3 separate regions of the Homo sapiens genome follow, and regions 1 and 2 are each linked to region 3. The links come from fine-mapping of genetic effects on gene expression. A gene starts in region 3. Each other region holds a variant in brackets. All regions are shown on one strand. Distances are from middle to middle.

What was found.
Region 1: its variant is fine-mapped to the expression of SRPK1 in whole blood (TOPMed, PIP above 0.99).
Region 2: its variant is fine-mapped to the expression of SRPK1 in pancreas (GTEx, PIP above 0.99).

Annotation. Positions count from the first base shown.
Region 1 is chr6:36,022,349-36,025,192 of GRCh38, forward strand. It overlaps SLC26A8 (solute carrier family 26 member 8), which reads right to left and starts at 2,293. Exons shown (of 20, transcript NM_052961.4): 1 at 2,156-2,293. RefSeq lists enhancers at 1,738-2,239, 2,240-2,739. The variant C/T (reference allele first, on the strand shown) is at 1,697.
Region 2 is chr6:35,795,985-35,798,828 of GRCh38, forward strand. CLPS (colipase) reads right to left here and starts at 1,339. Exons shown (of 3, transcript NM_001832.4): 1 at 1,221-1,339. The coding sequence starts at 1,304. The variant T/TTA (reference allele first, on the strand shown) is at 1,693.
Region 3 is chr6:35,919,885-35,922,384 of GRCh38, forward strand. SRPK1 (SRSF protein kinase 1) reads right to left here and starts at 1,214. Exons shown (of 16, transcript NM_003137.5): 1 at 1,160-1,214; 2 at 584-644. The coding sequence starts at 1,172. RefSeq lists silencers at 877-1,466, 1,497-1,556.

The DNA of each region.
Region 1 (2,844 bases), 100 kb after region 3:
AGCTGAGTTGTCCAGTATGGTAGCCACTGGCTACATGTGGCTATTTAAACTTAAAATAAAAAATTCAGATCCTCAATTATACTAGCTAGATTTCAAGTGCTCAACAGCCACATATGGCTAGTGGTTACCTTACTGGACAGTGCAGATATGCAGATATAAAAAATTTCCATCATCACAAAAAGTTGTTGGACAGTGGAGATAGGAGAGACTGAGGCAAAACAGCCAATTGGAGACCATTAATATTAGTCTAGGAGATGTTATCAAGTCATAAACTCCTACGACCACAGTGAGGATGGCTAGGAGGAGCAGGTGGAAAGTTGTCTTTAAGGAACTCCATCAAATGTCTGGCTAACAGCAGCAAGGGTAAACGCATGGTTTCCTTATTATTTTTTTTAAGTAATTTTCTTTGGAATTTCTCCAGCTCCATTATGTCTTTCTTGATTTCATAGAAATCCTAGTGGCTCATTTTCATGTACTAGCAGGACACTTCCCAAGAAGATGCAATGACCAGAAACTCCTACTGTTGAGTAGGCCCCACTTAGCAAGACCTACTGAATCAGAAACTCTGGGGGCCATCAGTCTGTTTTAAGAAGCTGTCCAGACTGCTGGGCCCCCAGAGATTCTGATTCAGTAGGTCTTGCTAGGTAGAAAAAAAGCAAAGAAGCTGTCCAGGTGATTCTGATAAAAATTAAAGTATGACTACCACTATAAATATAGTGGATTATCTTTCATGAGCCTTTCAGTGCTAAATTTGGGGGCCCTGTTAAAATACAAGCACTTTTGGCCTAGCTCTTTCACCCTCCATAGTACCCTTATCCATCCATCCATCCATCCATCCATCCATCCATCCATCCATCCATTTATCTAATTATTTACATTATCTGTGTTCAGAGTGCTTTAAAAGTAAAGAATAGGCCAGACATGGCTCAGTGGCTCATGCCTGTAATCCCAGCACTTTGGAAGGCCAAGGCGGTTGGATCAGCTGAGGTCAGGAGTTCAAGACCAGCCTGGCCAACATGGTGAAACCCCGTCTCTAATAAAAATACAAAAATTAGCCGAGCATGATGGCGTGCCTGTAGTCCTGGCTACTCAGGAGGGTGAGGCAGGAGAATCGCTTGAACCTAGGAGGCAGAGGTTGCAGTGAACCGAGATCAAACCACTGCATTCCAGCCTGGGCGACAGAGCAAGACTCTGTCTCAAAAAAAAAAAAAAAAAAAAAAGTCAAGAATAAAAAGTTTAAATACAATCCAATTTTTTAGCTATTGACCCAAATAATATGAAATCTTGAAAGCTAGTTTAGTTGCAGGAATATCTTCCCCCTGATATTGTTAACTTTCTTATGTTTTCTATAATCACGGAAAGGCAAAATTTACTTCCGAATTTTCAAAATAAGCATTTGTAATTCCATCAGAAACAACCCTACACCTGTTACTACCTAGGTTTTTATGGAGAATGTATTGGGAATACAGAAAAGGTATAAGCAAAGAGCCTGGCCTTTAGATCCTTTAGTCACTCTGGCTAGTGGCTAGGGATGACTAGTAAGATGACAGTCCTTAAGCGGATGACCATTGGACACATAAACATAGGACAACCACCTTCCATGCAATGTGGATAGAGTAACATGGTGTGTTGGAGAGATGCTCATTATTGGGGTGGGGGTGCTGGAGAAGGCTTCACGGGGCCCCTGACACATCAA[C/T]GGCATTTGACATGAAAAGAAAGGGGCAAGGAGGTGGGGGTGGGGATTCAGTCACAGGGAACAAAATTAACAAAAGCAGTGGGGTCTGAAAGGAAGAGGAACGGCCGGGCAGTCAGGCCTCAGGAGGAAATGGATGGGGTAGGCGGTGGGGTGCAGGTAGCACGTCAGTTCTGGGGCTTTTGACAATATAGACAGGAGAATTTGAAAGGATGCAGCTTGCAAAACGCACACACTGTTGTCTCTTGTCATTGCCATCCACACGGCCTTTGAAAGTAGAGACAATACCTCAGAGATAAGCTCCCAGGGACGACCATCATTCATTCATTCCACAGATACTGACTGAGTGCCCACGGCGTGCCTGGCTCTGCGGCATACCTGGGTACCTGCCGGTGACGGACGCAGCCCCCGCCCTGGGACCTGCAGCCCCCGGCGCCCAGGCGTCTCCCAGCAGCGGCTCACCTGGCTCCTTGGCGGGGGCGGGAGTGCGGGCGCTGGGATCCCACACGGCTCTCGCCTGGCTGGCGGCGCTGCGGACGCGGATACCGGCGGCGGTTCCCGAGCCGTTGTGGCCTAGCCCGCGGGCGTTCCGGGCGGGCTGAGGAGATGAGAGTGGGGGAGGGGACGAGGAAGAGGAGCATGAGCAGCTGGGCTAGGGAGCCAGGAAAGTGGTACCTGGGTCGCCCTCCTCATACCTGAGTCGTGGGATCCCCTTGGTATTTGGTAAACCTGTATACCAAGGCTCCTTCTCTCTCCGAGGTTTTGCTATTCTTGATCGAGGGCCTATTTGGTGCCAGGCCTCGTGTCCTGAACATACAGCAGTGCACATGTGTCACATGTGTACTGCACAGACGGTAATTCACTAACGTCTCCGGAAGACTTAAGCCTTCCTCAGGTCAGAAGAGGTAAAAAGAAATGGAGGCTAGGAGGGTCACCCAGGTCTCCAACCATAGGCTGTCTGCCCCACAAACCCGGCTCTCCCCACTGAATGACACCCTCCTGCCCAGATCTGCTCTGGATGCAGACATGCCATCTGCACTCACTCCCTTTACCCTCCTCCCACCCTATCCCTGTCCCTAGCACTGTCTCTCACTCCACCTTGTATTCCTGCTTGGCCCAGTTACAGTTTTACACTTGTTTGTTTGATGACT
Region 2 (2,844 bases), 120 kb before region 3:
GGGTCTGGTGGCCTCTGTGCCCCCCACCCACGTGAGAAGTGGGCATGCGGTGACAGAGAAGCAGACTTGCACAGAGGGTCAGGACCCCTGGGTTCTAGTACCGGCTGTGCTACCAACCTCCTGTGTGACTCTGGGCAAGTCACTGCCTCCCAAGCCTCAGTGTTCCCATTTGGAATGTGCACACAAGGCCCCTAGACAAGTTCTCCAAACCACTCTGGGTCCCACACCTCTTTAAGGAGGCGGTGAAGATTGCATCTCCCTGCAAGACTCCTTCCTCCCCCAACAGATCTGATCTATAATCTCCAAGGGTCCTGGACCTCCAAGTCCAGCCATGGCCCCAAGTTAAGAGAGTTCAGAACCTTTCAACCGCATGGACGTTCTGGAAGGGCTTTCCCAGCCAAGACCCATGGTGGAGAGGTGGTGTGGGGCAGTGGTGGGGCCCCAGCTGAACCACTTTCCAGCTATGTGACCTCAGGCAGGTTGCTCACCCTCTCTCTGTCTGAAGACAGGGCTGACTCTGAAAACACCTCCCTCAGTGGTTATTATGAGAACAGAATGAGTAAACATCTCCGAGGCATCTCCATAAGTCAGAAGCTGGAATGATTGGCGCAAAGCATTTTCTCAGGATGGAAGCCCAGGGCTCTGGATTTTTACAAAGCTCCCTCGTAGGGCCAGGTGAGGTGGCTCATGCCTGTAATCCCAGCACTTTGGGAGGCCGAGGTGGGCGGATCACGAGGTCAGGAGTTTGAGACTAGCCTGGGCAACATGGTGAAACCCTATTTCTACTAAAAATACAAAAAATAGCTGAGCGTTATGGCAGGCACCTGTAATCCCAGCTTCTTGGGAGGCTGAGGCAGGAGAATCATTTGAACCCGGGAAGCAGAGATTGCAGTGAGCCGAGATTGTGCCACTACACTCCAGCCTGGTGACAGAGCAAGACTCCGTTTCAAAAAGAAAAAAAAGAAAAAAAAGGTCCCTCATAGCCAGGTTGAGCTGCTGCTCTGAGCATGCTCCAGTTGGAGCTGGAGAGGGGCTGATCAGCCTTTCCTGTGGCCTCTGGGAAGAGGCATAGGACAGGACATGGAAGTAAACAGAGGGATGCAAGATGCCACTCCTCCCAGCCCCTGCCAGTCCAGGTGGAGACATCAGAGGTCAAGGTCCAAGCTTAGGAAGTCTTCATCTGGGGACTCAGGAGGCGCCTCCCCTGAAGACCCTCTTACCAGGTTGATAATGATCCCCCGGGGGCCAGGAGCTGCATAGGCCACAGAGAGGGCGACAAGCAGGAGGATCAGGATCTTCTCCATGGTGAGTGGGACAGCTGGTGTGGGTGGCGGGAGACAGAGCCAGCTGTGGTGATGGGGCTATAAAAGGGGCCCTGACCTCACGAGATCCACCTGCATCCCACAGGGCTGGCCGTGGGCAGAGGCACAGCTGTGGCCAATCTGCTGTGGGGCGGTTCCTGATAAGGAAACTGGGTGAGTACCTGGTGGCCTTTTTCGTGTGTGTGTGTGTGTGTGTGTGTGTGTGTGTGTGTGTGTTGGTGATAATTGTGTTGCATCGTGGTTAAGAGTATGGACTGTGTACAAGTTATTAGTGAGGCAAACTTACTATCTGTTCCAACTATTCTGCCTTTCATCTTATCTGTCAACTAAGGATAATTTAAAGAGTTGTGAGGGTTGAATTAATACACAT[T/TTA]TATGTGTTACATATATATAAACATTATTATATACAATTATAAGAATATATTTATATTGTATATTCCCATATGCCACATAAGCAGTGGGTAAGGGTGGCTGCCCTTGTGTCTTGAGCTCCTGGGCAGTGCCTGGACGAATCCAAGGCAAGAGAGGCACCTATGGTGTGAGTGCCTGCTTACATTCTGTGTACTTGGGGCCTCTCTGCCTCACTATAGTCAGGCCTTGCCTTTGGCCCACCCAAGCCCAGGTGTCTAGCAGTGTCAGACTCCAGGGACGAGGATCCTAGCCTCCCACCCCTCAACCTTCCTTCAGTCTCCTCGGGGGATTCCAGGCCATGCCCAGATCCCTGGGGCTGACAGTTCTGCAACCCCCAGCAGGCCAGGGTGTGTGTGCTTTCACTTTGGCACCCTCCCCCTGCCCTCACACCAGGGGCTGCCTGCAGGCCTGACTCAAGGGCCCTTAGGAGGCCCTTCCTAAATGCCTCTCTCCCCTTTCCTTTCTACCTCACTTACTATCTGCAATTCCAGCATCAGATACTCACCCCTTTAGTTAAGGTTTCCACTCACGCTGCCCCCTACCCAAGGCCACGTGCGCGCGTGAGCAGTCGCTAGTCCTGGCTGAGAATGAAGAGGTCTCATGAGCCTCAGATGGAGCAGGGGCCTCAGGAAGCTGGGAAGGGCACAGCTGCCTGAGTTTGCTCAGGCATGGGAACAGAGCAGCTTTTCCTGAAGGACTAGTCATGGCAGCCAGAGGCCCCTGCCCTTCCCCTCTCCATCCCAGGAGGTAGAAGACAGCTCCACTGAGAGGCCCAGGCCTCAAGCACAGCTTTTAATTTAATTTAATTTAATTTTTTGAGACAAGGTCTCACTCTGTCACCTAGGCCGAAGTGCAGTTGTGCCATCTTGGCTCACTGCAGCCTCCACCTCCTGAGATCAAGCAATCTTCCCCCTAAGCCTCCCAGGTCTAAAACTCGTGGGCTCAAGCAATCTTCCCACCTCGGCCTCCTAAAGTGTTGGGATTACAGGTGTGAGCCACTGTGCCCAGCCTCAAGCACAGCTTTGATCCAGACCAAGCTGGCTTCAAAATTCAGCATTTACTGGAGCTACGTGGCCTCAGACACATTATTGAAAGTGAAGCTCCCTGAACCTCA
Region 3 (2,500 bases):
CCGACTGTATACACAGCGGTCTGCCGGCACACTGCAAAAAAGCCGATACGCCTTACAGGCTCAGGAAGTTGACTAACCCAGGGAAAAGCCCCATGCCCTCCTCTATGAAAGGGAGTGTGTGGTTGGTAGAACCCAAAGTAAACACGGAAAAATTCATTCAAGAATTTCCTTAAGGCCTACCGTGAAGACGTCGGAGGCAAGTTAAGACGTTGGGGAGCAGGTAAGAGAGACCAGAGTTCAGAAACAGACCGATAATGATCTACCAGCTCCGGTGGGGAGGTCCAAGCTAGGGGAGTTTGTGCCTCCTCTGTGGAGTTGGGGAGGAAAGGTACCGGGCGGGCTCTGGTCCTCCTCCGACAGCCCTTTCCAGCAGGCCCGGGGCTGCTAAGACCCAGGCCTGGCGTTGAGCAACAGCAGCTCTCTTCCACATGGTTGCTGGAGAGCGACCCTCCGAGCTGCCCCGAGGCCATGTGGCTGCAGCCACAGGGTGCCCAAACCCGGTGCACGTTCAAGACGTGAAACCAGAGCAGAGAAGGTGCCGGAGGAAAATCCAAAGAATGGGATGTTGGGGTACAAGACTCACTTCCTTTGGGCTTTGTCCTTCTTGGCCTTGGTCCTTTTCTTTCGGGCCTGGAGCGCAAGCACTGCAGGAGAGAGGGATGGATGAAGGGCGAATGTGGAGGAAAGGAGGCGACCAAGGTGAGGGTGGAGACCCAGCAGGGGCGCCAGGCCCGGCTGCGGGGCCTGCCTCGGGGGCGGCTGCGGGCTCCGGCGAGGCGGCCGGCCGTGGGGCTGGCGGCCCACGGGGCGCAGAGCAGCGCCCGGGCGGGATGCGCCGGAGGGGTCTCAGGCCGGGTCAGGGGGCGGGCGGGTGGGGGTCTGCGTCGCCCGCCAAGGGCCGGGCCCTGGAGTGGCCCCAAGGCGCGAGCCGGCCTGGCGGGGAACAAGGGGCGGCTACGGCCGGCGCCAGAGGACGCCCGGACTGAGGGGCGCGGACCCGCAGCCCAGAGGCAGGGGGTGTGGGGCGGCGCCACCTCAGTGGAGGGGCGCCGCACGTCCGGGAACCGAACCGCGGCAGTTAAGCGAAGCTCCCGGCGCTGACCCGGGCCTCGCCCCGGCGACCATTGCCCCTCGTGGCGGAGGCCGCTCCACCGCTCACCTTTCCGCTCCATGGTGAGACCGGTAATCGCCAGGCGCCTGCGCACTCGAGTGGCGGCGACTCCCGCTCCCGCCGCGGCCCAAAACCGAGCCCGCTCACACTCCGCCCTCAGTCCCGCCCCACCCCCGCCCCACGATGCCGCGCGCTTGCGCGTTGGGCGCGGAGCCTACCACCTGCTCCCGAGGAGGGGGCGGCAAGGAGAGGGAGGGGGCGCAGCGGGGAGGAACGCCGGGGTGAACGTTGAAGGAGTGTTAGAGATCCAAGCTTGGAAACCTGGCAAGGTTAGTTTTGTTCTATTTGTTTAGAAAAGGCGCAGAGAGCGGCAGGGCTCTCTGCATGCTGCTGAGTCAGAGCTTCGGAGGCAACTGGGATCTGCCTCAGTTTCCTGGCCTGTAAAATGGATTAATCAGGCATGTCCCAGTTTCTCCTTCCCTGAGCTATTGTGAGCCCAGTTGAGATACTATTTAAAGAAAATGGAAAAAAATTACATGTGAGAAAGAAAAGGGAGTGGGAGCAACACAAAAAGACTGGAAGGAAAGAACCTGTGACCCTATTATCACTTGAAAAGTAAAAACTTCAAAAGTGAATTTTCTCTTGAAATTTCAAGTTTAAGTGAAAGCTGTAAAGGAAAGAAGGGGAAATGAGAATAAAAACGTTTAATGTTTTCTTATTCTACCACCTTCAATACATGATAAAGCTGTCTTGTTTATAAGTTTTTTTTGTTTTTATTTTCTAAGTGCATTATCTCATTTGATGTTTATGGCAACTTAAAGGCAAAATAGTTATTACTTCCATTACACAAAGACACTAAACTTAAGAGGGCCTGCCTATATGTTCAGAATCTTGGTGTACGACCCAGTTATTTAATCATGAAGCCCTTATTGTATAGCAGGCTCAGCAAAGTTTTTCTTTGGGCCGTACAGTAAATATTTAGGCTTTGTGGACCATAAGATCTCTTTCTCAGCTACTCAACTCTGCCATTGGAGCTCAAAAGCAGTCATAGAAAATATGGGCTGTGTTCCTATAAAGATTTATGTATGGACACTGAAATTTGAATTTCATATAATTTTCACGTCATAAAATGTTCTTCTATTGATTTAAACATGGTCTTTGTTAGGTTTTGAAGGGAAGGTGAGGGTTAAAGAAAGACAGAGAGAGCAGTCTTGCTCTGCTGCCTAGGCCGGAGTACAGTGGCATGATCTCGGCTCACTGCAGCCTGGACATCCAGGGCTCAAGTGATCCTCCCACCTCAGCCTCCCAAGGTGCTGGAATTACAGGTGTGAGCCACTGAGCCAGGCCCTTTTGATCTTTTTTCAACCGTTTCAACGGTTATTCTTATTT